4 separate regions of the Homo sapiens genome follow, and all the other regions are reported to be linked to region 2. The links are microRNA targets in miRTarBase. Many come from high-throughput screens and were not tested one by one. Region 2 holds a microRNA gene; each other region holds the end of a gene's coding sequence.

Region 1 (4,000 bases), not on the chromosome of region 2:
AACTAAAAAATACAAAAATTAGCTGAGCGTGGTGGCACATGTCTGTAGTCCCAGCTACTCGGGAGGCTGAGGCAGGAGAATCGCTTGAAGCCGGGAGGTGGAGATTGCAGTGAGCCAAGATCACGCCACTGCACTCCAGCCTGGTGACAGAGCGAGACTCTGTCTCAAAAAAAAAAAAAAAAAGAAGTATATCTGTCAGTCCAGCCCATCTGGAAGGAGAGGGGAGTACACAAGGGCAAGAATACCAGAGGTGGGAGCACTGGGGGCTGTCTTTGAGGATACCTACCCACCACACTCACACAGGCATAGTATTTTTGGAAAGATACACTAGAAACATTCAATATTGGTTGCCTTCAGGGAAGGGAATTGGGAAACTCCCACCTCAGCCTCGCAGATAGCTAGGACTACAGGCACACACCACCACACCTGGCTCTTTTTTTCATAAAGACAGGGTTGTCTGGCTAGTCTAAACTCCTGACCTCAAGCCATCCTCCCACCTTGGCCTCCCAAAGTGCTCGTACAGGCAAGAGCCATTGTGCCCAGCCTAAATATGCTCTTGCATACCTATTTTACAATATTGATATATCACTTAAAAAATAAATCAGGCTTGGTGTGGTGGCTCATGCCTGTAATCCCAGCACTTTGGGAGGCCGAGGCAGGCAGATCACTTGAGGTCAGGATTTGGAGACCAGCTTGGCCAACATGGCGAGACCTTGTCTCTATTAAAAATACAAAAATTAGGCAGGCATGGTGGTAAGCACCTGTAATCCCAGCTACTCTGGAGGCTGAGGCAGGAGAATCGCTTGAACTTGGGAGGCAGAGGTTGCAGTGAGCTGAGATTGTGCCTCTGCACTCCAGCCTGGGTGGGAGTGAGACTCTGTCTCAAAAAAATAAATTTTATTTTAAATTTAAAAAGAACAATGAAAAATATGGCATTTTAACAGACACAAAGCTAAGAGGGAACAAAATAAAAACAATACTTAAATACTATATAGTTATTACTGAGCACCATAAACGTGCTTGTTTCTACTTAGCCATTACTTGCTTCTATGAGGGAGGTTTAAAAACCTCTTTATTACACATGCATACACATAAGCGAGCATCTCCCACTTGTAGAGCAAAATACAAACGCTTGAGCTGGGACTCATAATCCTCTTCACAATTTGGTTCCAGTCCACCCTTACTGACCCACTTCCTGCCATCCTTCTATCCATCTGTGAACTTGTTATTTGTGATACTGAACTATTATTTGCCAGTTGTGGAGGGTAAAGGCAACAAGCACAATGCCTGGCACACAGCTAGCTTTCGTCAAGTGTTGGCTTCCATCCTGCCTCAAACATGGCCTTTGTTTAGATTATCCCCTGTGCATGGAATGCCCCGCACCCCTCTCCTAGCCCCAGGTAAAATTCCCTTCAAGGCCTACCTCAAATGTCACTGTCATCAAGAAGGAGTTCCACAGGCAATTAGTTATCATCTCTATTCTCCCACAGCACCTGTTTTTACCTTAACTATAACACTTTTATTATTGTATTACAACTTAAGTCTCTGCAATCCAAAGTCTGGTCCTTGGACCATTAGCTGAGACTTCGTTTGAAATGCAGAATCTGGGCCCCATCCCAGACCTACAGAATCAGAATCCAAATTTTAACAAGATATCAGTGACTTATTTGCACATTAATCTTTCCCTGGTGGAACTGTGAGCCTTTCTAGGGCTCTCTTTTATTTCTGTCCCCAGAGCCCAACATAAGACTTGACACTTAAATGCTTTTTAAGTTTTATTTGCAATACTTATATGATAGATGTTTTTTAATTCCTGGAAAAATAAATACACATTATTAATAATAGTTATCTGGTAGATGGATAACGGTACATTTCTATGTAACATTTTCATTTTTTGTAATCAGAATGTATTACCTTTACAGATAGGCAAACACAAAGATTTGGGAAAATGCATGTAAAATCTAAGAAAAAAGGTAAATTGTAGATATAATACATTCACAAAAAGAATATAACTGTGTTGAGCTATATTTACAGATATAAAAAGATGAACAAATTACATTAGGTTTTTTAAAAAAAGACAACCTAACAGTATGTATCGATGATAGCACGTTTGTTCTTTAAAAAAATTTGTGAATTGGTCAGGAGCAGTGGCTCATGCCTGTATTTCCAATATTTTGGGAGGCTATGGTGGGAGGATCCCTTGAGCTCAGGAGTGAGCTGGGCAATATAGTGAGACCCTATCTATATTAAAAGAAAAAATTTGTAAATAGACACTGAAAAGGTATCTATCAAAATATCTCTAATGAAGTTTGTTTTACAATTTTCTACATTTTACATTTTTTCTAGTTTTCCTATGATCTTTATAAAAGCTTATCACTTATAAGAAAAAAAGTTATTTTCATTTTTGAAAAATATCTATACCCTTTACTAAGTCCCTTTACATTCAATGACCAAGATTCCCACAACACTCTGGGAAGCTGAAAGATCTGAAAGTAACACGGCCATTACATAGATGAAGGCAGCAGACCTTGGAAATGTAACCCCGATGGACTGACTCTGGGCTGGCATTCTCCCACCCCTGCGGCTACTCCAGACTCAGAGGAATGTGGCAAGTCAGATGCCAGCTTTGGCCAAAAAAACTCCTGTCATTTTAGGAGTCTCACCATGCCCAGTTACTTCCTCTGAGATGGTAACAGCAATAGGGGAACACTTCAAAGACAAAGCATTCAGAATGATTCATGCTGCACCACCTCCCCCTGGTGGCAGGTTCTGGAAATTGGCTTGAGGATAACTATTGCAATTGGTCAAAATTTTTAAAATATATTTTCTGTCAAAATCACCCTTATTTCTTTAAATCATCAAAACCACTTTTTCTTTTGTCAAGGATTCAGGTATTGACAAAAGACACAAAACCAGGACCTGGTGTCAACCAGACAATGCTTTGGATGATGCCAAGGGCAGTGTGGCTCTTTGCCTCTTGTCCTTGCTTCCCCACCTCTTTAGGTCCACAATAGAGGAAAGACACTATGTTCTTCAGCACCGTCTTTCCTGTTGTCTCTCTAGCTCCATCCACTTCCCTGAGCCTCAGAAAAGGGCAAGGCATGGCTCACATACTCTCAGCCACGGCCTGGCATGCTGCAGCTCCAAAATCAGACATCTAGGCGCTAATCCTCCCCAAGACCCAGTCCTAAGGTTCAAGGCACTGATGTTTCAAATATGTCAGACTGAAATACTGACGTTTCTTTAGAAACATCAGGGTTCAGAATGTCAGTCTTCAACTGTGGTACCCGTGGTCTCCAGATACGCATAGCTTCCTTACTCTTCCAGGAAGAAGGAAACATTCAATAGGATATCTGAAATAGGAAGACAGAAAAAATGGCATTATCACCTCTCCCGAGAACATAAAACACACAGAGGCACAGCAAGGGCACCTTCCTAATGCTTCCAAAGAGGCGAGCCACAGGGAGAGAAAGGAGGAGAGGAGACACAAAGGAAGAACACAAACCAGTACCTTGTACAAGATCTTGGTGTTCGTCTTTTGAAATTCGGTCCCAGGCCTTGGGCAAAGCTTGTATGTTTGCCAAGTCTCCCCACTGGATAGACGAAAGAAGATACTTTCTCTTCAGGTACCTTTCTGGAAGTTAAGGACTGCTCAAAAGAAAATGCAGTATGCTGAAGTGAAAAAAAACACCCTGGTGAGAACCAGAGGGAGCCATAAAAGTGAAAGTGCAGATATCCTTACATTTTACCAGGTGGGCCTGATTCACCTATGCTACAAATATTTCCTGAGCAACTGTTTACTAACATGGCTTTGTGCTACAGGGAAAGAGGAATGAAACCATCCCTGAAATCTGGGATCTCAGCATGGTGAGGACAAAATCAGATCCTGAAAAGAAAGAACAAAAGGGACATGAGAGGTAAAGCTAGCGGAGGTTCAGAGGATAAATACATCCAATTCAGAGGAAGCAGGGACACCCCAGCTGGTAGGAAACATGAACAA
Region 2 (8,499 bases):
CTTGAGGCCAGGAGTTTGTGACCAGCTGGCCAACATGGTGAAACCCTGTCTTTACTGAAAATATAAAAATTAGCCGCGCATGGTGGCTCATGCCTGTAATCCCAGCTACTCAGGAGGCTGAGGCAGGAGAATAGCTTGAACCTGGGAGGCAGAGGTTGCAGTGAGCCAGGATTGTGCCACTGCACTCCATCCTGGGTGACAGAGCCAGACTCTGTCTCAAAGAAAAAAAGAAAATATAGACACACCCAAGGTAATAATTTTATGTTCTCCCAAACTTCATTGCCCTGATTTTCAAACTTTTGTGACTGTGATTCACAGTGAGAAGTACACATATCTGTATAAATATCTAAAACAAATGTTTCACCAAACGCTACTTAGCTTTACTACGTGGGTAAAGGTAGTAATGTTTTCAGTTCTGTTCATTCTATTTCATTTTTGTTAATGCTACTAGGTTGAACCATTTGAAATACATCTGTGTATCAAAACTGTCAAATATGGGCAATTTCATACAGTTCAACCTATTTGTGACACTAATTTTACAATCCACTTCCTTAATGGAATGCATCTCATAGATTAAAAAACATTGCTAAGTGGGCATATTTCCAGTTAATATTATTTTTAAAACTAAAAGAGGACTGAATTTTTGTTTTTGTTTTTCATTTAATATGGCGCGGACATCTTTCCACACTGGTATCTTACAGCTCCACCTCACTGTTTTCTGTTTCTTTGAGACGGTCTAACTCTGTCATGAAAGCTAGAGTGCAGTGGCATGATCACGGCTCACTGCAGCCTTATCCTCCCTGGTTCCCACCTTGGCCTCCTAGGTAGCTGGAACTACCGATGTGCACCACTACACCTAATTTTTTTTTTTTTTTTTGAGACAGACAATTTCGCCCAGGCTGGAGTGCAGTGGCACAATTTCAGCTCACTGCAACCTTCGCCTCCTGGGTTGAAGTGAGCATGTCTGGCTAATTTTTGTATTTTTTATAGAGATGGGAGTCTCCCTAAGTTGGCCAGGCTGGTCTTGAACTCCTGGGCTCAAGCAATCCACTCACCTCTGCCTTCCAAAGTGCTGGGATTAGACATGAGCCACTGCGCCTGGCCCACTTCACTGTTTTAAGGGCTTCATGAATTCACATGCACCTACCCCGGCTCAGGTAACCTGCCCTCACTGGAGGCACTTAGGTTTTTTCCAATTTCTTGCTGTTCCAAACCATGCCACAGTGAACTTCGTTGTTCCTGTGCAGTGCCAGAATGTCTGTGGTGCAGGCTCCTAGAAGCAGGATGGCAGGCTCCTACCTCTAGACATTTCTTTTTTTTTTTTTTTTTTTTTTTTGAGACGGAGTCTCACTCTGTCACCCAGTCTGGAGTGCAGTGGCACAATCTCGGCTCACTGCAACCTCCGTCTCCTGGGTTCAAGCAATTCTCTGCCTCAGCCTCCCGAATAGCTGGGATTACAGGTGCCGCCACCACGCCCAGCTAATTTTTTGTATTCTTAGTAGAGACGGGGTTTCACCATGTTGGCCAGGCTGGTCTTGAACTCCTGACCTCGTGATCCACCTGCCTCGGCCTCCCAAAGTGCTGGGTTTACAGGCGTGAGCCATGGCGCCCGGCCAGCATTTCCCATTTTGATCTTAGCTGCATTTCGAAGCCTCTGGGTAGGCGATATGCTCACTTTCTTCCTTGTGTGTGTGTGATGGAGGGTAAATGGTGCTGACCGAAGGGTCCCACTCAGGCAGCCTATCTGTTCAGCCCTCCTCTGACCACAAGCCCCTTTCTGCAAGATGGGAAGCTCCAGCTTCTTCCAGACCTCTCTCTAGGCAAACTTCATGGAGGCATGAAGACATTGTGCTTTACCATTTACTAGACCTGAGTTTGAATCTCACCCATGCTCCTTAAACACTCTGGATTCCATTATCATAGCTACGAAAAGAATATAAACCTCTCAGGGTTGCAGGGAGGATGAAGCTGAACACGTGAAGTGCGTTGCAAACAGTTACACAGGAGTTAGCTATTGTCCTCAGCTGGTGCTGACAGCTCTTTCCCAAGCATGAGAGAGGCTCTTCCGTGCTGCCTATCCACACTTACCTGCAGCAATAAGGCTGTCTCCTGAGTTTACAAAAGGGCTTGGTCCTTGACCTATTTCCTCACTTCTTCTGGACTTCTTGAGCGCTAAAGTAAAGAATGAAACTCTTGGACAAAGCCATTCATTCAACAACAAATATTTATTGAGCACCTACTACATGCCAGCCACTGTGCTAAGCACCATCTGGGCCTCAGTTTTTCCATCTGCAAAAGTAGGAACTGTGCTTCTGAACAGGGAAACGCTGGGCCTCTGGGTGGGGGCAGCCTTTGGGGCGGGACTGCAATTCCGTCATTGGAACCCAGGGACGCCCCGCATGTTTCCGAACGGCCTCCAGGGGGCACCGCCGCCCTGAACTGAGAGCCACCGGAGCCGGGTAGGGGGAGGCCCAACTTTCCGCTCTGTCAGAGGATGATGCCGAGGGCCCAGATGAGCAGGATTTGGACTGTGTTGCTGGGAACGGGGGCCTACACTGGCCCCAGGATGAGTTCGTCCGTACCTGGGGGCCCTGGGTTCTGACTCTCAGGTCAGACGCAGCCAAGATGCAACTCAGGAACTTCAAGGTTTCCGCTCCGGCCAAGAGCCCCAGTCCGGCAGGGGAAAGGGTGGGGGAGTCGCCCTTGCTCCCCCAGCCTCAGCCCTCGGGAGGCGCAGCGTCAGGGCGGGCGGCAGCACAGAAACCCCCCGCGCCGCTAGAGGGACCCTCGCAGCAGCTGCGCGGGCGACCTCGCGGTCACGTGCGGCAAGGGCGGGACCAAACGAGCGTCCGGCCAATCGACTATGCCGTCGGCGAGCGTGATAGCCAACAGGAACCGGGAGCGGGGTCCCGGGACTGGGAAGAAACGGCGGCCGGGAGGGGGCTCCGGGGACCATGGGGCTCCTGACCATTCTGAAGAAGATGAAGCAGAAAGAGCGGGAGCTGCGACTGCTCATGCTGTATCCTACCGGACGCCGGAACCGCGAGGGTGGCGGGGTCCAGCCGGGCAGGCGGTGCCGGGCGCCCCCTGTCGGGAGCGGAACGCGGCGGCCGGCGCGTCCCAACTGCCCCTGGCGTCACCACGCGGGCCCCATCAATCGCCCCGTCGGGCCGGGAGGAGCCGCACCCCAGGACTGGGGCAGGGGCCAGCTCCGAGGGCCGCAGAAGCGGTCCTGCAGGCGCAGCGGCGGGGCTAGGCGGCCCGAGTGTCAGGGGTGGTGGGTCCCGGAGATAACTCGGACGCCACCACCCGGCGGCCTGGCCCAAGCGTGGGGCCGCTGCCCTCCCGGCTCTGATCTCCTCCCCCGGGCCCGAGGGTTCCAGGCCCCGGCCCCGCCCTCGAGCTCCGAATCCCGGGGGCGTGCGGGGTGGCGGGTGGCGCGTGTGGGCTCCGCGGATCCTTTCGAGCGTGGATCCAACAGTCCGTCTCTTTGGTGTTACGCGGCCCGTGGTTGTCCCTGCGGCTGAGGATGTGTGTGTGTGGGCCCGAGTGTCCCGTGCGCCCTGTGCGCCTTCTGAGTCCAGTTAGGCGCCCGCACCTGTTCCCCCAGCTCTGTGCCAGGCTCCGCGGGGGAATGGCTGGGGAGATAAGACGCTTACGTGCACATATAACTTAATAATCACATCATGACTGTTTTGTTTTTTGAGACAGGGTCTTGCTCTGTTGCCCTGGCTGGAGTGCAGTGGCACAATCAAGGCTCACCGCAGCCTCCAGCTTCTAGGCTTAAGTGATCCTCCTGCCTCAGCCTCCCAAAACTCTGGGAATATAGGCATGAGCCACGGAGTCCGGCCCATGTCTGTTTTATTTTGTTTTGTTTGAGACGGAGTTTCGCTCTTGTTGCCCAGGCTGGAGTGCAGTGGCACAATCTCAGCTCGCTGCAACCTCCGCCCCCCGAGTTCAAGCAATTCTCCTGCCTCAGCCTCCCAAGTAGCTGGGATTACAGGTGCCCGCCACCACGCCCGGCTATTTTTTTAAATATTGTTAGTAGAGACGGGGTTTCACCTTGTTGGTCAGGCTGTTCTCGAATTCCTGACCTCAAGTGATCCACCCGCCTTGGCCTCCCAAACTGTTGGGATTATGGGCGTGAGCCACTGCGCCGGGCCGCATGTCTGCTTTAAAGAGCTCTAAGAAAAGCATACAGTTCACTCATTTGATAAATATTGAGTGCCTAATATGTGCTAGACACTGTCCTAGTGCCCAGGGTAATAAAACTAAAAAATCTTACCTTCATGGAAATTCTGTAATGCGTGTGTGTGTGTGTGGCGGGGGGGTTGCCCGCGGGTAGAAAGATGATAACACAGGAAGTAAGTAAAATATGTAATAGAGGCTGGGTGCGGTGGCACACACCTGTAACCCTAGCACTTTGGGAGGCTGAGGTGGGAGGTTCGCTTGAGCCCAGGTGTTTGAGACCAGCCTGGGCAACATAGTGAGACTCTGTCTCTATTTATACATATATATATTCTCCATACATACTATATATATATGGGCCATGCTTTGGACCATGCTTCTGGGGAACAGGGCCTTATACTGCTCCAGGATGAACTCCCACTACGTATATAGGTATGGAGAATAATGCAATTTAGGGTGGTCAAAGAAGGCCACTGTATGATGGCAGGGCGCAGTGGCTCATGCCTGTAATCCCAGCACTTTGAAAGGCCGGGGCGGATGGATCGCCTGATGTCAGGAGTTTTGAGACCAGTCTGGCCAACATGGTGAAATCCCGTCTCTACTGAAAATACAAAAATTAGCTGGATGTGGTGGTGGACACCTTTAATCCCAGCTACCTGGGAGGCTGAGGCAAGAGAATTGCCAGAACCCGGGAGGCGGAGACTGCAGTGAGCTGAGATCACGCCATTGCAGTCCAGCCTGGGTGACAAGAGCGAAACTCTGTTAAAAAAAAAAAAAATGACAATTGAGTACATGAGGGAGGCGAGGGTTGAACCATATAGCAATTCGGGGGGGGGGGAAACTTTAAAGCAAAGGGAACAGCAAGTCAGAGGCCCTGGGAGGACTAACTGGCGTGTTCAGAGGACTGGTGAGGAGGGCAGTATGGCTGGAGTGGGGAGGAGGAGCGTTGACTGGGAACCCCCTCACCTAGGGCCTTTTGGTTTTTGGTTTTCCCTTTCAGTGAGAAGTGCAGTGGAGAGAAGGAATCGCAGACCAGTTAGGCCACTGCAGTGACGCAGGCGAGATAGGATGGTGGCTTGGACCAGGATGGAAGTAGTGAGGTCATGGAAGTTTCTGGCCTGAGCAATTAGAAGGGTGAGGAACCATTTGCTGAGATGGAGAGGACTGGGGGAGGAGCAGGTTCAGGGTGGAGATGAGAACCCTGTGTGTGCCTGTGTGTGCCATGTGAGATGCCTCCGAGACAGCCCAGAAGTGTCAGGCAGGCAGCTGGATGTAGGCACTGAGGTCCAGTGTGTGGGAGGTGCACATTTGGGTGTTATCAGGATAGAGATGGTATTTGAAGCTGTGATCCTGGATGAGGTCACCCAGGGATGAGCGTGGCCAGAGAAGAGAACCCGGTTGTACCAGGATGAAGTCAGGTGAGGAGCAGAACCAGGTGAGGGTGTGTCCCAGTGCCAAGGGCAGCGCATGTGCTGGGGAGGAGGGTGAGCCACTCCATCAGGTGCTGAGTGGGGAACAGAAGATGACTGAGCGCTGTCCCAGCACTAGAGGGCCACAGGGAGGTCTTTGGGGACTGACCTTGGTAAGGACAGTTTTGGCCACAGCAGCAGCAAAAGCCTGATGGGAGTGTGTTCTTGAAAGAGCAAGAAGGCAGAAATGGGGGTGAGCACAAACAACTATTTTGAGATTTCCTGTAAAAGGAAAGATATAAATGAATAACTAGATGGGGCAGAGAGATCAAGGGCTTTGTTTGCTCTTTTTTTTTTTTTAATCAGACGGGGTCTCGCTGAGTCGCCCAGGCTGGAGTACAGTGGTGTGATCTCGGCTCATTGCAACCTCTGCCTGCCGGGTTCAAGCAATTCTCCTGTCTCAGCCTCCCGAGTAGCTGGGACTATAGGGGCCCGCCACCACGCCTGGCTGATTTTTGTAGTTTTAGTAGAGATGGGGTTTCACCTTGTTGGTCAGGCTGGTTTCGAACTCCTGACCTCAGATGATCCACCCACCTTGGCCTCCCAAAGTGCTGGGATTACAGGTGTGAGCCACCGCGCCCGGCCTATTTGCTCTTTTTAAGGTGGGAGAAAGAACGGCAAGCTCATCAGCCAGTGGGAATGATCAAGAGGGGAAGGAAACATGGATGATGGCTTGGGGGCAGGGGGTCATCAGCGGCTAGGTTCCAGGGGCTAAGGCTGGGCCTCAGGGGAAATGCCCTCCTCACCCCTCTCCTGGGCCTAGGTCATTTGCCCCAGCTCCGATGAGCAGGGAAAGGTGGTCGAGTCCAGGACCCGCCCACCCCACCATGCCCAACTGAGCTGCAGTGTTGGGAAGATAGAGGAGGGTGGTTCCTTCCACAGGTAAGCACACCCATTAATTTGCACTGTGCAGTAGCAGGTCTGGAATATTCCAGAAACAAATGAGGGTGGCTGCCTCCAGATATTTGTTCTTACCTTAGTTCTTCAAAAAGCTTGCTCCTTGTATTTTGGGTCTCAGCTCCAGACACCTCAGAGAGGCCTTCCCCGGCACCTGAGCTGAAAGAGCCTCCTCCGATGGCCCTCTTGGAAAGCCTCTCTGTTGTGTTGATGGCGCTAGCCGGGATCTGGCAGGGCCTTCTTTTCTCATTTGTTTGTACTTTATTGACTGTCTTCCCGCTAGAGTGTAAGCTTCCTAAGGGCAGGGCTTTGTCCTCTAGCACCCAGAAGAGGGTCTGGCACATAGTAGGTGTTCAACAAATTAAGGAGCCTTTGGTCAGTAGAGATGATATTTATAATTTGATACTTTCATATTTATTGTGGGCCGATTATGGTCAGGCATGTGCTCAACTCAGTTTGATACATGGTGGGAAATAATGAGTCCCCTAAGGGGCTCTGCAACAATGTCACCACCTGGCAGAGAACAGGGACTTCTCCTTAACCTGCTGCGCCCCAGTGGCCTGGACAATGCTGGAAAGACAACCATCCTGAAGAAGTTCAATGGGGAGGACATCGACACCATCTCCCCAACGCTGGGCTTCAACATCAAGACCCTGGAGCACCGAGGGTGAGCAGGGGCCCCATGGGAGGGCCAGCCCAGAGCAGGGCAGGGAAGGTGGGAGAGGGGCCCAGCTGACCCTCCTGTCACCCGCTCCTTGCCCAGATTCAAGCTGAACATCTGGGATGTGGGTGGCCAGAAGTCCCTGCGGTCCTACTGGCGGAACTACTTTGAGAGCACCGATGGCCTCATCTGGGTAGTGGACAGCGCAGACCGCCAGCGCATGCAGGACTGCCAGCGGGAGCTCCAGAGCCTGCTGGTGGAGGAGGTGGGCAGCTCCTACCCTTTGTGTACATGTATGGACGTGTGGCTGCCTTCTCAGCAGATGCCCAGAGGGGCCCGTGGCCCCAGAGGGAAACCAGAGGCAGGATCCCTTCCTTCTCTGGGCCCCCACCATGGGAGGCCCATGGTGCCAGAGGCAGGACACATGCTGTGGACTGAGATTGAGTTAACGTCCCTGTGGTGTTACTACGTCACTACCCTGAGCATCAGTTTCTATGCCTTGAAATGGTGATGATGACACCCACATCACTGGGCTTTAGGGAGGATAACCCAAGGCCAGTATGAAGCTTCGAGAGGCCATGGAGCCTGGCTCAAGAGTCTGACTCTTTGCTGTGTGACCTCAGCTGGGGGTGGTGGCACGCACCTATAGTCCTAGCTACTCTGGAGGCTCAGACAGGAGGATCAGTTGAGCCCAGGAGGTTGAGGCTGCAGTGAGCTGTGATCGTGCCACTGCACTCCAGCCTCCTGGGCGACAGAGCAAGACCCTGTCTCAAAAAAAAAAAAAAAGGAAGGGGCCAGGTGCGGTGGCTCACGCCTGTAATCCCAGCACTTTGGGAGGCTGAAGCGGGCGGATCACGAGGTCAGGAGATCGAGACCGTCCTGGCTAACATGGTGAAACCCCGTGTCTACTAAAAATACAAAAAATTAGCCAGGCATGGTGGCGGGCGCCTGTAGTCCCAGCTACTCAGGAGGCTGAGGCAGGAAAATGGCGTGAACCTGGGAGGCGGAGCTTGCAGTGAGCCGAGATTGTGCCACTGCACTCCAGCCTGGGCAACAGAGTGAGACTCCGTCTCAAAAAAAAAAAAGAAGGACACTTGCAAAGATAGTACAGAGGTCAGAGGTCCCCCATATACCCTTTACCTTGCTTCCCCATCTTACCTAACCGTGGCCTGTCCAAACTAATAAATCAACACTGGTGAATTACTATTATCTTAATTACAGATTTTATTTGAATTTCACGTTTTTCCACTAATATACTTTTTGTGTTCCAATGTTTGATTCAGG
Region 3 (8,353 bases), not on the chromosome of region 2:
GTTCAAGTGATTCTCCTGCCTCAGCCTCCTGAGTAGCTGGGACTACAGGCGCCCAACACCATGCCTGGCTAATTTTTTGTACTTTTAGTAGAGACAGGGTTTCACTGTGTTAGCCAGGATGGTCTCGATCTCCTGACCTCGTGATCCGCCCGCCTCAGCCTCCCAAAGTGGCTGGGATCACAGACGTGAGCCACTGCACCCGGCCAAGAGCCCTGGTTTAAAAGGTAAGTGGAGGCCAGGCGCGGCGGTTCACCCCGTAATCCTAGCACTTTTGAGAGGCCGAGGCGTGTGGATCACGAGATCAGGAGTTCAAGACCAGTCTGGCCAAGATGGTGAAACCCCATATCTACTAAAAATACAAAAATTAGCTGGGTTCGGTGGCGGACACCTGTAATCCCAGTTACTCGGGAGGCTGAGGCAGGAGAATCGCTTGAACCCAGGAGGTGGAGGTTGCAGTGAGCTGAGATCGCTGTACCCTAGCCTGGGCGACAGAGCAAGACTCCGTCGAAAAAAAAAAAAAAAAAGGCCTCCTGTACGGTGCACAGAGTATTTCCCTCTTATTCTCTGCACCCACAGGTGTATTCATAGGCCAGCGGTGCACCTCTTTTGGGATGAAATTTGAAGAATTCGGTCTCTAGAATCCATGGGCTGGAGCTGTTAAGGTTCTATACTCCTCCCTCTCCCCAAGAGTCCGTTTCTTTCCCCCCTTGGATTGGCTTATTTTATTGCTACTTCTTTGGGGATAAAACTCTTTTTGACTGTTAGCCTGTGAGTGAATTAACTCATCTTTGAGCAAGATGCGTTTCTCTTCTCCCCAGGGAAGTGTCACAAGCCCTGAGGAAGTCTCCAAGCTGGCTGGGGCTCCTGATGAAGGTGCTGGTAGGAGCTCAGCGGATGTGTCTGGGCTAATGAGGGCTCTGTGGCTGGACACAGCGCAAAACATGGGTTCCCCCAAATTTATTTATTTATTTATTTATTTATTTATTTATTCATTCATTCATTCATTCAGAGACAGGGTCTCCCTCTGTTGCCCAGGCTGGAGTACAGTGGCACAATCATAGCTCACCACAGCTTTGACCTCCTGGGCTCAAGGGATCCCCCTGCCTCAGCCTCTTGAGTAGCTGGAACTGCAGGTGTGCACCACCATGCCCAGCTAATAGCTAATTTGTAAAATTTCTTGTAGAGATGTGGGCTCACTATGTTGCCCAGGCTGGTCTCAAACTCTTGGCCTCAAGTGATGCTCCCTCCTCGGCCTCCAAAAGTGTTAGGATTACAGGTATGAGCCACCACGCCTGCCCAGGCTGGAGTGCAGTGGCACGATCTCGGCTCACTGTAACCTCCACTTCCTAGGTTCAAGTGATTCTCCTGTCTCAGCCTTCCGAGTAACTGGGATTACAGGCATGTGCCACCATGCCCAGCTCATTTTTGTATTTTTAATAGAGACAGGGTTTCGCCATTTTGGCCAGGCTGGTCTCAAACTTCTGACCTCAGGTGATCCACCCGTCTCGGCCTCCCAAAGTGCTGGGATTATAGGTGTGAGCCATCCCACCTGGCCATATCTTTGTTTCTCGCAACACACTTATACACATCACAATATTCTTTTTTTTAAATTTTCTTTTCTTTTGAGATGGAGTCTCACTGTTGCCCAGGGTGGAGTACAGTGGTGCGATCTCGGCTCACTTCCCGGGTTCACACCATTCTCCTGCCTCAGACTCCCGAGTAGCTGGGACTACAGGCGCCCGCAACCACGCCCGGCTAATTTTTTGTATTTTTAGTAGAAATGGGGTTTCACCTTGTTAGCCAGGATGGTCTTGATCTCCTGACCTCCTGATCTGCCCACCTGGGCCTCCCAAAGTGCTGGGATTACAGGTGTGAGCCACCGCGCCTGGCCCTGGGTATTTTCATTTTTATTTATTTTTTTTGAGATGGAGTCTCACCCTGTCGCCCAGGCTGGAGTGCAGTAGTGCAATCTTGGCTCACTGCAATCTCTGCCTCCCCAGGTTCAAATGATTCTCCTGCCTCAGCCTCCCAAGTAGGTGAGATTACAGGCGCCTGCCACCACACCCAGCTAATTTTTGTATTTTTAGTAGAGACGGGGTTTTACCATGTTGGCCAGGCTGGTTTCAAACTCCTGACCTTGTGACCCAGCTTATTTTTGTATTTTTAGTAGAGACGGGGTTTTACCATGTTGGCCAGGCTGGTTTCAAACTCCTGACCTTGTGACCCACCTGCCTCAGCCTCCCAAAGTGCTAGGATTACAGGCATGAGCCACCGCGCCTGGGCCTTTGGGTATTTTTAAAGAGTAAAGTGCCCTGAAGACTGTGTGTGTAGGTAAGGGGCTTGCCCTCCCACTGGATGGCTCTGGATATAAAGTCATGGAAACACAGCTCCTGCATGTCTTCTAAGAGGCTTCATGGTGTGGAGAGTGCAGAGTGCTGGCTGAGGGCCGGCCTGGCCCAGCTGGAGACTGAAGCATGCCAAACTGACTCTATCCCTTAGGAACCAAGAGGACAGCCACCACCCACAGTACCAGGCAGAAGCAGCCTGGGCCTCGTGGTAGTTGCTAATCTGTAAGTTCCATGAAGGCAGGGATTATGTTTTGATCCCCAGTGTAACCCAGGCTCCTTGCACAGTGCCTAGCACACAGTGGTGCTCAATACACATTTTTTTTTTTTAAAAGGAGTCTCACTGTGTCGCCCAGGCTGGAGTGCAAGGGCGTGATCTCCACTCACTGCAACCTCCGCCTCCTAGGTTCAAGTGATTCTCCTGTCTCAGCCTCCCAAGTAGCTGGGACTACAGGTGCCTGCCACCACGCCCAGATAACTTTTTTGTATTTTTAGTAGAGATGGGGTTTCATCATGTTGGTCAGGCTGGTCTTGAACTCCTTGACCTCAGGTGATCCGCCCACCTTGGCCTCCCAAAGTGCTGGGATTACAGGCATGAGCCACAGCGCCCAGCCTCAATACACATTTTAAAGTGAATTTTGGTAGAATATATATATATATATATATTTGTTTTTTGTTTTGAGGCAGTCTCATTCTGTCGTCCAGGCTGGAGTGCAGTGGTGTGATCTCGGCTCACTGCAACTTCCGCCTCCAGGGTTCAAGCAATTCTCCTGCCTCAGCCTCCCGAGTAGCTGGGACCACAGATGCACGCCCCCACGCCAGGCTAGTTTTTTTGTTTGTTTTTTGTATTTTCAATAGAGATGAGATTTTGCCATGTTGGCCAGGCTGGTCTTGAACTCCTGACCTCAAGTGATCCACTCGCCTTGGCCTTTCAAAGTGTTGGGATTATAGGTGTGAGCCACTGCACCCGGCCTCAATATTTCTTTAAAGACATGGGGTCTCACTGTGATCTCCCAGGAGTTCAAGCAATCCTCCTGCTTCAGCCTCCCAAGTAGCTGGGACTATAGGTGTGCCCTACCACACCCAGCCCTAAATTAATTTTTTAAATGAAGTATCTCACTAAATGACATGACAGCAACTTTGCACAGATGAGGTGAGTTCCCTTCATCTCCAAGCCAGTGGTCCCAGAACCTCACCCTATGCAGTTAGGAGCAAGAGACTGCTGACAAGGATCCCATTAATAGGCCCAAACCATGCCATCCTCAGGAAGCCGGACTCATGGTTGCAGGCCCCTGTCCTCCCACGGGGCCACAGAAAATAGCAAAGGAAATGAAAATGTCCCATCCAACCCGGGCTCTGAGACCACACTGACAAAGCTTAGTGTCTGAAAGCCAGGGGCCCAACACAGGGCACCTCTCCGCAGCCTCTGTGTTATTTCATAGCTGAACAAATTCTATCCTAGGCCTTTCTTCTCTCAGATCCCTCTTCCTCCCTCCTTACGCGGGCTCTGAATTCCAGGCATTACACCAACCACAATCATACACACAAGGGCCTCGTGCTCTGATGTAGCCCTTGAAGCAACAGCAGCACCTGAAAGCCTGTTAGGAAGCAGAATCTTGGGCCCCACCCTGGACACTGCCCAATCAGAATCTGCATTTTAAACAGGAGCCCTTGATGGAGCAGTTTGAGAAGCACTGGGTTGGAGTAGTAATCATCACTGAGAAGATGACCATATCAGCATTCTATCTGCCTCCATAACAAATTATCACGAAATTGGTGGCTTAAAACAATATTCATAACCTCCCATTTCTGTAGGTCAGCGGTGTGGGCACAATGTAGCCCAGCTGGGTCCTCTATGCAGGGCCTCAGGGCTGGGCTCTTAAGGCTCTGGGGAAGATCTGGCTTCCAAGCTCACTGGCCATTGGCAGAATGCACTTCCTTTGGCTTCCCACACAGCCACATTGAAAACAGCAAGCATGTGTCCAAACCCAGAGGCTTCAGGTCTCACTTCTGCTTACAGCTCCTATGATCACACTGGGCCGTCGGATAATCCAGGATAATCTCCCCATTTTAAGGTCAACCCACCAGTTACCTTAATTTCATCTGCAAAGCCCCTCTTGCCACGTGATAGAGCATAACCATGGGCATGGCCCCAGAACGTGAAGGTCATGGGGGCTGCAATTCTGCCTACCACATTGACTTCATCAGCAACAGGTCCAGTTCGGGATGAATCGCCTCTGAAGGGTGCTCTGAAGTGCTCCAGCTGAAGTTTTGGCCATCTCCGCCAGCCACACCCCACTGGGTTCCTCCTCCCCAGCTCTGGCTGTTTCGTCCCCTCTAGCCATCGCCCACCGTCCACACTGCCATACGGCCGCTCAGGACATCCCAGTTCCCTCCTGCCCGAGAGCTCTCATCTGAGGACGCGCATCATTCCTCAGGAAACTCTATCTTTCCACACCACCCCCAGCTGTTCTCAGCCACCCAGAAAAAAGGAACATAAACGCTAATGGGGAAAAACATGGGGACACATCTCATTTCACCCCACACTCCCTCAGCTCAACCTGGGAATGTAACCTGCAGGGCAGCAAGACCAGAAGCAACACCACTCCAGTTCTCCCAAGGGCCAATGGCATAGCCCTTGGGTATTCTCAGGGTTCTCTTACCCAGACAGGTGGCCAGCTAGCAGGAGTGCACACACTTCCAAATATCAGCTAAAGTCAAATGATGGCTCAATCTTCTCCATCTATTAAATCAAATTGGTGCTAGGCTCAATGGCCAAGGATGCAAAGCTGGTTGTCTTTGGTCCCTTCCAAACTGTGGTCTGTGAATGAGCAGTGGTAGGTATTACCTTGGAGTTGCTACATCTATAGAGTCCCTCCTAGTGAACTGGAATCTGCATTTTAATGAGATACCCAGGTGATCTGTAAGCACATCCTGAAATGCTGAGGAAAACCTGAAGTCAGCAGCAGAAAGGCGGACTCCAGCTGTGTCCAGGCATCCTTCGTTCCGAGTCCAGTCCTTACCTGGCCCATACAGGCCCAACTCCCAGCCACTCTTCCTCCTCCATCAAGCACCACCTATCTCTTGAGATCTTTCACAAAAATAAACTTTAGGGAAGGGTGGGACCTTTGGAATAATCTAGTCTTACCCCACCTCATGGCCTCTTGCATGTCAGCGCCATCACCATCATCATGCCACGTGCTGTGTCTCAGAGCCTGTTCCCTCCTAGTTTAAGATCTTTGAGAAACCATGTCTTTTCATCTCTGTATCCTCAAAGTCTGGCTGATCCAGTCCGGTATATAGCAGGTCTGCTAAATTGTTGTTAAACTGCCTTAATTTCGATAGATGAAGCAAGCAGAGCCAGGAGAAGTTGGGGAGATCAGCTAAGATCACTGGGCAGTCAGGTGCTGATCCACGTCCAAACTTCTGAACCAGGGAGGCATACAAGATGCTTTAGTGACTTACATGTGTGTGCCATTTTTATTTGTCTCCAACACCCACCCTATGTTGGATGCCATCTCAATTCTTCTTGTGTATTGAGAATGAGTCTTTTATCTAAGCTCGTTAAAACAGAAATTCCATCCATATTTACTTCAAAAGACTCAAAAATACAATTTAATAGAATACTTAATATGAATTTCACAGGCACCAAAGTTTACAGCTGTTGAGGATGAGGTCACACTGGCCCAACTAAAGTCATGTCACCTCTCTCACATCGTAGCATTCTTTTATCCTTGTTTTACACTCTTAAGAGATAGCATAAAGAAGAAAATCAAAACCCAGAAAAGGTTTGCTGTAATTACTCCAATAATTTCCTTCAGTGAAAATCTCTTATCACTATGATTTTAGTGACAGAGGAACAAGCAGAGCTCTGACGTGGGGCTGAGTGCCCACTACTAAAGGGCAGAGGCTGCCGCCAGGCCACCAAGGCCCATCTGGCCAGGCAAGGCCACCCAGAGCCCTCACGTTTACTCCAAACGGCCATTCTTGAGCCAGCTGGGTTGGGTCCCACCCCTTCTGGCTTGCACCACCACAAAGAAAACCTCAAGAATATCTGCTTTGCCGTTTTTTTTTTTTTTTGCAGACAGAGTCTCGCTCTGTCACCAGGCTGGAGTGCAGTGGTGTGATCTCGACTCACTGCAACCTCCGCCTCTTGGGTTCAAGCGATTCTTCTGCCTCAGCCTCCCGAGTAACTGGGACTACAGGCACGCACCACTACGCCCAGCTAATTTTTATATTTTTAGTAGAGACGGGATTCCACCATGTTGGCCAGGATGGTCTCGATCTCTTGACCTTGTGATCCGCCCGCCTCGGCCTCCCAAAGTGCTGGGACTACAGGCGTGAGCCACTGCGCCCGGCTGCCTTTTTTTTTTTTTAAAAAAGGAGAAAAGTAACAATAAACAACAGCCTTAAGAAAAAACAAGAAGCAACACAGATCATATGGGAAGCACAACTTTCTCAGCCAAGTAGCCCAAATTATCACAAATAATCCTACCAAGAATACACCTAATACTGGAGGGGAAAGAATGCTTACACAAAACTGTTGTTTGCTTTGAAGCTTTGAATAAGTTCCAAGTTTTTATATTTCACAATTTATATACTTTATTACAGTCCACAGTCTGCTAAATAAAAGCAGTAACAAGATATTTCACAAACTATTGTACAAATTAAGTCTTATGAATTTAATCTCATAAAAAATTAGGTGCATAGTCACACTGGCTAACCTAAAAATGCTATTTTATCTACAGCCTAAAATAAGAGGCAGTTCCAACACTAAAAATTAATCCCAGTTTTTTTTTTTACATGTTTTACAAAAAAAAGTTTGTGCTCTTAATCAAAAAGATCGAGGCTAATTCAGCATGTAAAAAATAAATTTTACAAAGAACCCAAGATAATATTTTTCAAACACACTTTTATTTTCTTTTTTTCCTTCCTCACATACAGAACTTCTCCACATACCACATTTCTTGCAGCTATAAAGTCACTTGATGTTGGCCGGGTACCATTTTATCCCTAAAACTCTGTTGACATCAAAATATGACAGTTGTTATATCCATAAAATATTTACATAGCACGGCATATTAAGCTTTAGACACTTGGCAATTAAACCACATAAAAAGAGGACAAGACCCCCATCCTACATGTTTGGAATCAGGTGTTCACCGGTCCCTATCTGGCGACTGTACACTGGTTCAAAGGGCAGCAGAGGCAACAGGCAGTTACTTCAGAGGACACTGAACACTATGATCTGGAAGCACGTTATGATGTAACCCAATGTCATGTACCACACACCTTTCTCCAAGGTGGTCTCATAATTCTAGAATGGAAGGTCCAGCTGTTACAAAATGAAGACAGACAACACAACATTTACTCTGTGGAGATATCCTACTCATACTATGCACGTGCTGTGATTTTGAACATAACTCGTCCCAAAAACTTGTCACGATCATCCTGACTTTTTAGGTTGGCTGATCCATCAATCTTGCACTCAACTGTTACTTCTTTCCCAGTGTTGTTAGGAGCAAAGCTGACCTGAACAGCAACCAATGGCTGTAGATACCCAACCTGGCAATAAAAGGAAAATATATTAATTCAAACTCTATGGAAACTTAATACTTCTCTCTACCAGGAATTGGCTTATTCTGTAAATTTTCTTTTTGAGACTGTTGCCCAGGCTGCAGTGCAGTGGTGCAATTATGGCTCATTGAAGCCTCAACCAATCCTCCCACCTCAGTTTCCTAAGTAGCTGGGACTATAGGCACATGCCGCCACAGCCCACTAATTTTTAAATTTTTTTGTAGAGACAGGGTCTCCCTGCCCAGGCTAATCTCAAACTCCTCGCTTCAAATGGCCCTTCCACCTCACCCTCCCAAAGTGCTGGGATTACAGGTGTGAGCCACCATACGTGGCTTGTAAATTAAAAAAAAAATTTAGCTCTATTATTTTCTGTTCTCTGCATTCTTTTTAATTTTTTGGAGCTGTAAGTCCATACCTGTAATTACTGATAA
Region 4 (8,499 bases), not on the chromosome of region 2:
TTCCTGGACAGAATTCTCTCACAGCACCCACCTGGGTGCACACCTTAAGCCATGAGCCATTTCAAGGTCAGACATTGGGAAGAATAATCAGAGTGGGATAGCTTTTAGGCAAATTCCACCTGACCACACAGAAACTGGAGTCGCCTGCCAAAAGCCATCCATCGGGGTCACTCTGGGTTTTAGTCAGGGGAAGCTCCAGATAGGTCACCCTCTTAGAGATCCAAGAATTGTGGGGCAGAGTCCGGACCGCAGGAGGCCAGCTGGCAAGAAGAGCTGTTCATTCTGTTAACCCATAAACAGCCCCCGAGTACAAGCCTGCTCAGGATAGCTGTGTGGCTGAGATATCCCCTCTGGAGAGCAGTTGGACAGTGGGCAAGAAAACTGGTGGTGCACCAGAGAGGGACATGCAGGGGCACAGAGGAGGACACTGACAAGTGGCCGGGGGTGGGTATGGGCTCAAGGAAGAGGCCACTAGGGATTTACAGGCAGGGAAAATAGCACCCTTTGTAATAGATTCCGATAGAACAAACATAACACTCCCGCCTGTGCCAAAATGAACTATCTTTTTGTTGTTGTTGTTGTTGTTTTCTTTTTTGAGACAGAGTTTCACTCTGTTGCCCAGGCTGGAGTGCAATGGCACAATCTCAGCTCAGTGCAAGCTCTGCCTCCTGGGTTCAAGTGATTCTTCTTTCTCAGCCTCCCGAGTAGCTGGGATTACAGGCCTGTGCCACCACACCTGGCTAATTTGTGTAGTTTTAGTAGACACAGGGTTTCACCATGTTGGCCAGCTGGTCTCGAACTACTGACCTCAGGTGATCCACCTGCCTCAGCCTCCCAAATTGCTGGGATTACAGGCATGAGCCACTGTGCCCGGCCTCAAAATGAACTATCAAAATTCTTTTAGTGGGTTGCAAATTTATAAATGTATAGTACGAAAACCAGATGCCGTGTTGCTGGTTTTCTTCTACGCTGGCGTTTAATCTCATGATTATGTGGAAGTGGGCTAAGCCCTTCCGTTAATGCTTAAGTGCTTAGACAAGTGAAAGGGGACTGGACAGAGGGGAGGTGAGCCTAAACAAAGAAATATAACTACACCTCAAATATTTTAGCAGCTCCACCATTCTGAGCTGAAGAAATATTCTTTCCTGACCCAAATTAATTTGATCCTAGGTGACACTGGAAAATGCAAACCCCTAAAAATCCAGTTCTAACCCTACTGCTGTGAAGTAACAACAGAGTGTTCAAGTCATTATCTGTCTCAATCATTAATGCTTGTTTTTGGTTCTTAGTTTGCTCTCTTCTGCAATAGTATGAATTTCCTGTATCATTTGTACTTCATTAGGTGCTAGCCCCATAAACTTCAGGCCAGTTGACTGTCTCTTATGTTCCCAAAGAAGTGGTATTTCCTGTACCACTAGGGCTTCCCACAAACCTTAGAGCCAGTCTGCCTGAGCACAAAGCTGAACTGCTAAGAACTAGCTTTGTGACCTTGGGCAAGTAGCAGCTATTTGGGTTTTTGCATTTCAGTTCTCCATCAGTAGAAGTGAGGTACTAGAATCAGGGAAGGGGTATTATGAGAGTTAAACAGCTTGCTTTTTATAAAGTACTTGAAACCTCATCGGGTATATATAGTAAGCTTCCTGAAAGTCTTAGCCGTCTTAGTCTTAACCTTAGTCTTGCTGCCATGTCAGCACCTAGGTGATTCTAAACCTGGCTAAGCCAAAGGTGATTCTTTGCTCAATAGTGCTGAACTGACTACAACCAAATAATTCCCTCTTTATTTATTTATTTATTTATTTATTTATTTTTGAGATGGAGTCTCACTCTGTGGACCAGGCTGGAGTACAGTGGTGCAATCTCAGCTCACTGCAACCTCCGCCTCCCGGGTTAAAGAGATTATCCTGCCTCAGCCTCCCAAGCAGCTGGGATTACATGTGCCCACCACTATGCCTAGCTAATATTTTGTATTTTTAGTAGAGATGGGGTTTCATTATGTTGGCCAGGCTGGTCTCGAACTCCTAACCTCGTGATTCACCTGCCTTGGCCTCCCAAAGTGCTGGGATTACAGGTGTAGGCCACCGCACCTGGCCATCATTGCCTCTTAAATGCAAATTCAAAGATCCAACATCAATATCAGAAATTTCTGGACAAATCTCAAGAATGCTCAATTATGTTTCTAAACTATTATATTCAAAGTTTCTTAGAGATCCAGAAGACTATTCTAATGGAGGGCTCCCAGGTTCTTTGATCAGAATAGCATAAAGTTGGGTTAAAAAAAAAAGTGGCTCACACATGTAATCCCAGCACTTTTAGGAAGCCGAGGTGGGCAGATCACGAGGTCAGGAGATCGAGACCATCCTGGCCAACATGGTGAAACCCCGTCTCTATTAAAATACAAAAAATTATCTGGGCGTAGTGGCGCGCGACTGTAGTCCCAGCTACTCGGGAGGCTGAGGCAGGGAAATCGCTTGAACCGGAGAGGCAGAGGTTGCAGTGAGCCAAGATCACGCCACTGCACTCCAGCCTGGCAACAGAGCAAGACTCCATCTCAAAAAGAAAACAACAACAACAAACCAACAACTTATATGATTCTACTTTATACCACTGGCAAAGCACTGGTTAACTTTATCCTAAGTTAGGCTGCTTTTGGCCAAAGCTTTGGTCAGAATGAATATGGTTTAGAGCAGTGTTTCTTGAGACAGAACTGGTCACAAGTGTGCTTTAAAATGATCTATTTTAAATTTTCAGGTGCTCATGCAACCTCTGACACATTTCCAAAGGCTGAATGTTCTATCTCACAAGGCAGTCCATGGTATGTTTAAAATGATTATTAGAAAGTTCTCCATGTTAAACTAAACTTCATTTCCCTATTCATTTGCTCTTTGGGATTTCACAGAATAAGTAGTCATTTGTATACCTGACAGTACTTAGACTATTTAAGGCCAATTAGAATAATTTCTCCTACAGGTCTTGGACTTGAGTCAGCTTGTAAGGAAACTTTCTTTCTTTCTATTTTTTTTTTGAGACAGAGTCGCTGTGATGCCCAGGCTGGAGTGCAGTGGCACAATCTCAGCTCACTGCAACCTCCGCCTCCCGGGTTCAAGTGATTCTCCTGCCTTAGCCTCCCAAGTAGCTGGGATTACAGGCATGCACCACCATGCTCAGCTAATTTGTGTATTTTTTGTAGAGACTGGGTTTCACCATGTTGGCCAGGCTGGTCTTGAACTCCTGACCTCAGGCGATGCTCCTGCCTCGGCCTCCCAAAGTGCTGGGATTACATGCGTGAGCCACCACGCCCAGCAAAATTTTCTTATAATCAAATTTACTCTTGAAAATCTCTTAAATCGCTCACGAAGTACAGTTCTAATAAAGCTGATTTTATCTTCAGGATTGGAATAACTTGCTGTTCTTTTGGCTGAGCTGCAGATGAACTGATAGGCTGGTATTTAAGAGCCATGTTATATAAAAAAACTATTCACATAGCATGAATGCATGTAATTGAATTATCCATATTATGTAACATTATAAAATATTTAATGTTTTCCATTAAAAGACCCTTACTGAGTACCTTCAACATGCCAGGCACTGTGCAAGGGTAGAACATTTGTCACACATTCCTTACCAATGCATCGATGTGGAAAAATAGGCTATTAGTTAACAGAATAGGAAAGCTACTTACTGAGATGAAACTGACATTTAAAGAGAAGATTGAGAAAAAAAGTATAGTGTTCTTCATGGAAAAAGCAGGTAGTTATGTGAACCACATGACTTCTGTATCTTGAGAAACAAGTTTCTGTAGAGTCATCTTCCAACCCTCTAATATTCAGTGATTTATGAAGACTTGGGTGATCATTGAAGGAATACTGGTTTACAGCAAATTCCAAGTATTTAATCCTGGAATTAATCATGTAAGAAACTCCAAATAATGCTATTTACTTAGCAAAATAAAAATAATTTTTACTAGGAAAATTTCAAAAATATCTTTAAGTGAACTGGTTAATAAATCCTTTTAAGACATGTACTTCTAAGGAAAGAAGTTATTCTAGAAAAACAAACTACTTATCTAGTCTTTCAGTGATCCTGAAAAATATTTTATGGGTTATCATAAAACAAGAATAACCCCAGCAGCCATCACAGTGGGATCTCCCGGATAGAGCAATAGTGGGCGATTACACCAAAGGAGTACCACATCCCTTTGCCATTCAACAGAGTTGAATTTTGCTAAAAATACAGATCACAGGAAGCCTTGATGAGGTAATTAACTCTCAATGCTTCACAGAGGCTGAAAAATGAAAAACGGTATTCCTACACCTGTCTTGAAGTCAGCCCTGGGTAGGGCAGGTTTATGGCAGATGGTGTGTGCAAAACCCATACAGCTTTTTTTTAGGTAGTGGTGGAGGTATTACCTTCTCTCCAAGTTGATTCCTCCATCACTGGTGCCAAACTACAGCAGTTTTGCTAAAAATGTGGCAATTCAATGTGCAGAAAAGATAACGTTGTGGGAAAGCCCTGACTCTTATAATCTTACTAACAGCTTTTTACTGTGTGACCCTGAACAACCATTAACCTCTATTTTCTTATCTGTAAGTCAACAATATATGGCCCATAATCTTAAGGGATAGGAAAAGGGTCAAATAAACTGAAACTTCAAAAAGCATTTTGTGAACTGTAAAACACAGTATATGTAAAAAGTCTAAAGGACGACAGAAACTTAGACAATTCAGAGAAAAATTCTACTGTGAACATTTTATTTTCACAAAACAAACTTTACAGATTTTACAATCTCCCAAATTTCACTTATTTAAAAATAGGAGAGACAAGGCAACCTAGACTCCAAGATTGCAGGCGTGAAAAAACTAGTACCAGATATTCAAGTTATATATGCAAACTGCATTTTATATACCATGAAAGTGAAATGTGACAAACACTCACTAGTTTCAAGTGTACCTTATAAGAAACACATGGACATACTTGGGTTTTTTAACCACATAGTCTCATATCAATAAACATCTAAGTATCTGACATGTATTTTTCCATTAAAGGTAGGCACAACTCTATGAATATCAAATTATATCAATCATTTGCTTTTTATAATCTTGACTGGAAACTGAAAAATAAGAGGAATGTAAAGTTAAGTAGCCGAAAATGCTACTTACTGCACAAAAGCACATCATGAAAAGGAATGCTAGAAGTAGTTCTCCTCAGGAATGGGTTTTTGAAAATTTAAAATATTATTTTATCAGAAAAGTTAAAGCCTTCAGTGGGAAAACCATGGTAAATGACATATTGACTCAATCTCTAAAGCCCTGGCAAATTATAGATTTTGTGCAATTAGTGACCAACATATACATTTAAGAGATAATACTGACTGTTGACCAGAACCTTCTGATGGTTCTGAAGCATCTGCTCTTTAGAGTTACTTCAGCTTTACATGTCTATGAAATTTAAGATTCCTCAATGGGATGTTATAGCTTATTCTGCACTAGATACAAGTAATATGTATAGATTTAGAACAAATGACTACTTTTCACCTTCCAGGAGCCTGTTTTTATTTATACAAAATTAGATTGGTTTTTCACCCACATGTATGCATAAGTGCTTCTCAAATTTACACCGTTCATATCTGAAATCCCACAATAAATGCAAATAAATGGATACTAGTTTATATATTTCATATTTTCATTCATCTTTTTTTTTTTTTTTTTTGAGACAGAGTCTCCGTTGCCCAGGCTGGAGTGCAGTGTCGTGATCTTGGCTCAACTGCAACCTCCACCTCTCAGGTTTAAGTGATTCTCATGCCTCAGCCTCCTAAGTAGCTGGGACTACAGGCACGCACCACCACGCTCGGCTAATTTTTGTATTTTTAGTAGAGACAGGTTTTCACCATGTTGGCCAGGCTGGTTTCAAACTCCTGGCCTCAAGTGATCCACCTGCCTCGGCCTCCCAAAGTGCTGGGATTACAGGCATGAGCCACCATGCCTGGCCTTTCATCCATCTTTAAACAAATTCAATGACCATCTAGAGACAGATGTGACCAAAGTGTTACAAATTTCTATGCATTTTCTATGAATTGCTCTGTGCAGTTCACACATGGGTTCATTCACCCCGCAGGCTGTGAACTTCCTTATCCTGTAGGCTGCAGGTACTTAGGTTTCAGCAACTACGCGACCCAAAAGACTAAAGGAGGACTTGTTTAAATTAGTCCCTCTCAAAAATTGTTTCCAATCTTATAACAAACAGATTTAATATGCTTGTGGGTTAAATTTTAAAGTAGTTATGAAGCCATTTACTCTAATATAAATGAATGAAATGTAATTAAGAACCATACTTAAACGAGTACTTAATTTTAATGAATGGTATTTTTCATTTATATACAAAGGAATAGCCAGCAGCATTTAAATATAGAAATAGTCCCATCTCTTCTCTATTCCCTTTTATAAAGTGCCATTTTAATTGGGTAGATTTACTACCCAGATTTTCAGTAACTACAGGATAGGTATCTAATTGTCAAGAAAAGCTTGGAAAATTAAGTTTAGCATTTTAAACATTTGTAAAACATTGCTACAAGTCATAGAGACTACCAATGTATTAAAATAAAAAGTGTACCTTACATAAGAATCATTAAGTTGGTTTAATAATTACTTCACAGAAACATGGGCTCATGAATACTTAGGCCAATTTGTGCTAATTATTTAAACCAGAAACAGTTTCTGTAGGTAATTCAGCTCTAAGCACCATTAAATAGGGTTATGCCAAATAGAACAATGGTTAAATAATCCTCAGAATAAACACCCCAGCAAATTCAAACTTTTAGAATAGTAACAAAAGTTAGTGAGAATCCGAAAGAGAGGCAACATTTTATTGAAAACTATCATAGGCTGCTAAGTGTTCTCTTTAAATAAAATTTTGTGTAGTTATTAATGTACCTTAACACTGGTGTACCTTAATAGTGGTGTTAGAGATAGGTGGAAACCATACTACAGAAGTGAATGTTGCCTGTTTCTTTTGTTCAGTGATTAAAACTGAAATTGCTTTTAAAAAAATAATTTAACTGCTACTTACAATACACATAAAATACCAAGAAGATTCCCATTTTATTCACATTATTCTCTAATTAGTATTTTTGCATTTCAACTTTGATCTGACCTTCAGTAGTACCTTAAAATGCAAATGCAATTAGTAAAAACGGGGCAGCCTGTCGTTTTCACACTTAGAAATACAATGTAGTTTCATTACAGTTTGCATTTTTTTGTTACTCTTGAAAGAGTAACCCCTTATAAAATCAGATACATAAAAACTGCATTATTCCTTACTTTGCAGGCATCCAGGAATGGTTAAAGCAAAGGAACTCTCATTCATTAATTCATTCATTCTGTTCCCCCAATTTAGATACATTTCTAGTCTCCAGAAACGGACTCCAGGGCAGGGAAGTGGAGGGCAGAGAAGAGGTACAGGTCAAGGTATGATGAATCTCTGAAAAAGACATCCACTTTTCCCAGAAGGCTAGCCTGAAGAGAACTCCGCCCCATCCATTCCGATCCCTCAAGTAAGAATGCATAATTTAGCTTGTCCTTCTGGTCTCACTTCCTTACAACACCTAGTATTCAATTTATTAAGACAAATAAACCTTTGCATTTTCTAAAAGAAGCAATTTTTACCCAAATACATTGGACTTTGGTCTCAATGTGAAGGGCGAGTGGCCTTTAACAGGTCGTTCCTCCCCCACTCCCTCCTCCCCCCTGCCCTCCAGCGGCTGCTCTGGGTCCCTGAAAGAGGGTGTGGTGTGGACGATCTGGGTTCTGAATCGGATTTTGTTGAGTCTGGGTTTTATACGTCCACTAGAGCTGCCCGAGGCTTTGCGCCCTGGATCCTTGGCTTTGCCTCCGACCCACCCCTCAGCCGAGTGGTGATGGTGGTGATGGTCCCCTCCATCTTCTAGGGCGTGTGAGAGTTTGTAGGTGATGAGATGCGAGGGAAGCACCTTTGAAAGCCTCCAGCGCCCGCCGCCGCTACCCGCGGCGCTTTCCCCGTCACCCTCGTCCAGGGCTCCCACCAGGTTCTTGATCTCCTCGGCGATGCTCCGACTCAGGTACTGGGAGGCCTTTTTCCCACTGTAGTCCCTGATGTCCACATCGGCGTCGTAGGCCCCCACCAGCAGCTTCACCACCTCCACGTGGCCGTGCATGGCTGCCAAGTGCAGGGCGGTGTAACCCCCGCTCGTCCTGGCGTCGATGTTCACCGGCAGCTGGTGTTTGTTGGCGAAGTTGACTAGCATGGCCAGAAGCTCCTGCCTGCCGTGCTTGGCGGCCCAGTGCAGGCAAGTGAAGCCGGTAATGAAGTCCCGCTTGACCAGCAGGCCGGGCTCGCAGGTGAGCAAGCCCTCCAGGCTGTCCCACTTGCCATCGGAGGCAGAGAGCATCCACGCGTGCTCCAGGGGGTCCAGCGTCACGGAGCCTCCGCCGCTGCTCTCCTCCTCCGCGGACGACGAGGCCACCGATG

What was found. The annotated mature microRNA hsa-miR-6879-5p reads CAGGGCAGGGAAGGUGGGAGAG and lies in region 2 at 7,257-7,278, shown strand. An mRNA with a match to its seed (bases 2 to 7 or 8) in the 3' UTR can be bound and repressed. Matches are read on the target gene's strand: a 7mer-m8 pairs with bases 2 to 8, a 7mer-A1 pairs with bases 2 to 7 and ends in A, and an 8mer does both.
Region 1: the mRNA of AIRIM is a reported target of hsa-miR-6879-5p. Seed matches in the 3' UTR shown: 7mer-m8 at 2,955-2,961.
Region 3: the mRNA of ATP1B3 is a reported target of hsa-miR-6879-5p. Seed matches in the 3' UTR shown: 7mer-m8 at 7,542-7,548.
Region 4: miRTarBase lists SOWAHC as a target of hsa-miR-6879-5p. Seed matches in the 3' UTR shown: 7mer-m8 at 7,435-7,441 and 7mer-m8 at 7,420-7,426.

What each region holds. Positions count from the first base shown.
Region 1 is chr1:37,679,808-37,683,807 of GRCh38, forward strand. It overlaps AIRIM (AFG2 interacting ribosome maturation factor), which reads right to left. Exons shown (of 5, transcript NM_001350770.2): 4 at 3,512-3,630; 5 at 1,763-3,353. The coding sequence ends at 3,316. Among named protein-coding and RNA genes, the nearest start is that of AIRIM, 8.7 kb to the right of the region's middle.
Region 2 is chr11:65,011,254-65,019,752 of GRCh38, forward strand. It overlaps MIR6879 (microRNA 6879), which reads left to right and starts at 7,252; the gene lies at 7,252-7,317. ARL2 (ARF like GTPase 2) reads left to right here and starts at 2,907. Exons shown (of 5, transcript NM_001667.4): 1 at 2,907-3,019; 2 at 7,111-7,221; 3 at 7,318-7,480. The coding sequence starts at 2,955. ARL2-SNX15 (ARL2-SNX15 readthrough (NMD candidate)) reads left to right here and starts at 2,907. Exons shown (of 11, transcript NR_037650.2): 1 at 2,907-3,019; 2 at 7,111-7,221; 3 at 7,318-7,480. RefSeq lists a silencer at 2,754-3,513.
Region 3 is chr3:141,925,088-141,933,440 of GRCh38, reverse strand. It overlaps ATP1B3 (ATPase Na+/K+ transporting subunit beta 3), which reads right to left. Exons shown (of 7, transcript NM_001679.4): 7 at 6,892-7,910. The coding sequence ends at 7,740. Among named protein-coding and RNA genes, the nearest start is that of ATP1B3, 53 kb to the right of the region's middle.
Region 4 is chr2:109,615,223-109,623,721 of GRCh38, reverse strand. SOWAHC (sosondowah ankyrin repeat domain family member C) reads right to left here. Exons shown (of 1, transcript NM_023016.4): 1 at 4,732-8,499. The coding sequence ends at 7,655. It also overlaps a transcript of RANBP2 not described here. Among named protein-coding and RNA genes, the nearest start is that of SOWAHC, 5.1 kb to the right of the region's middle.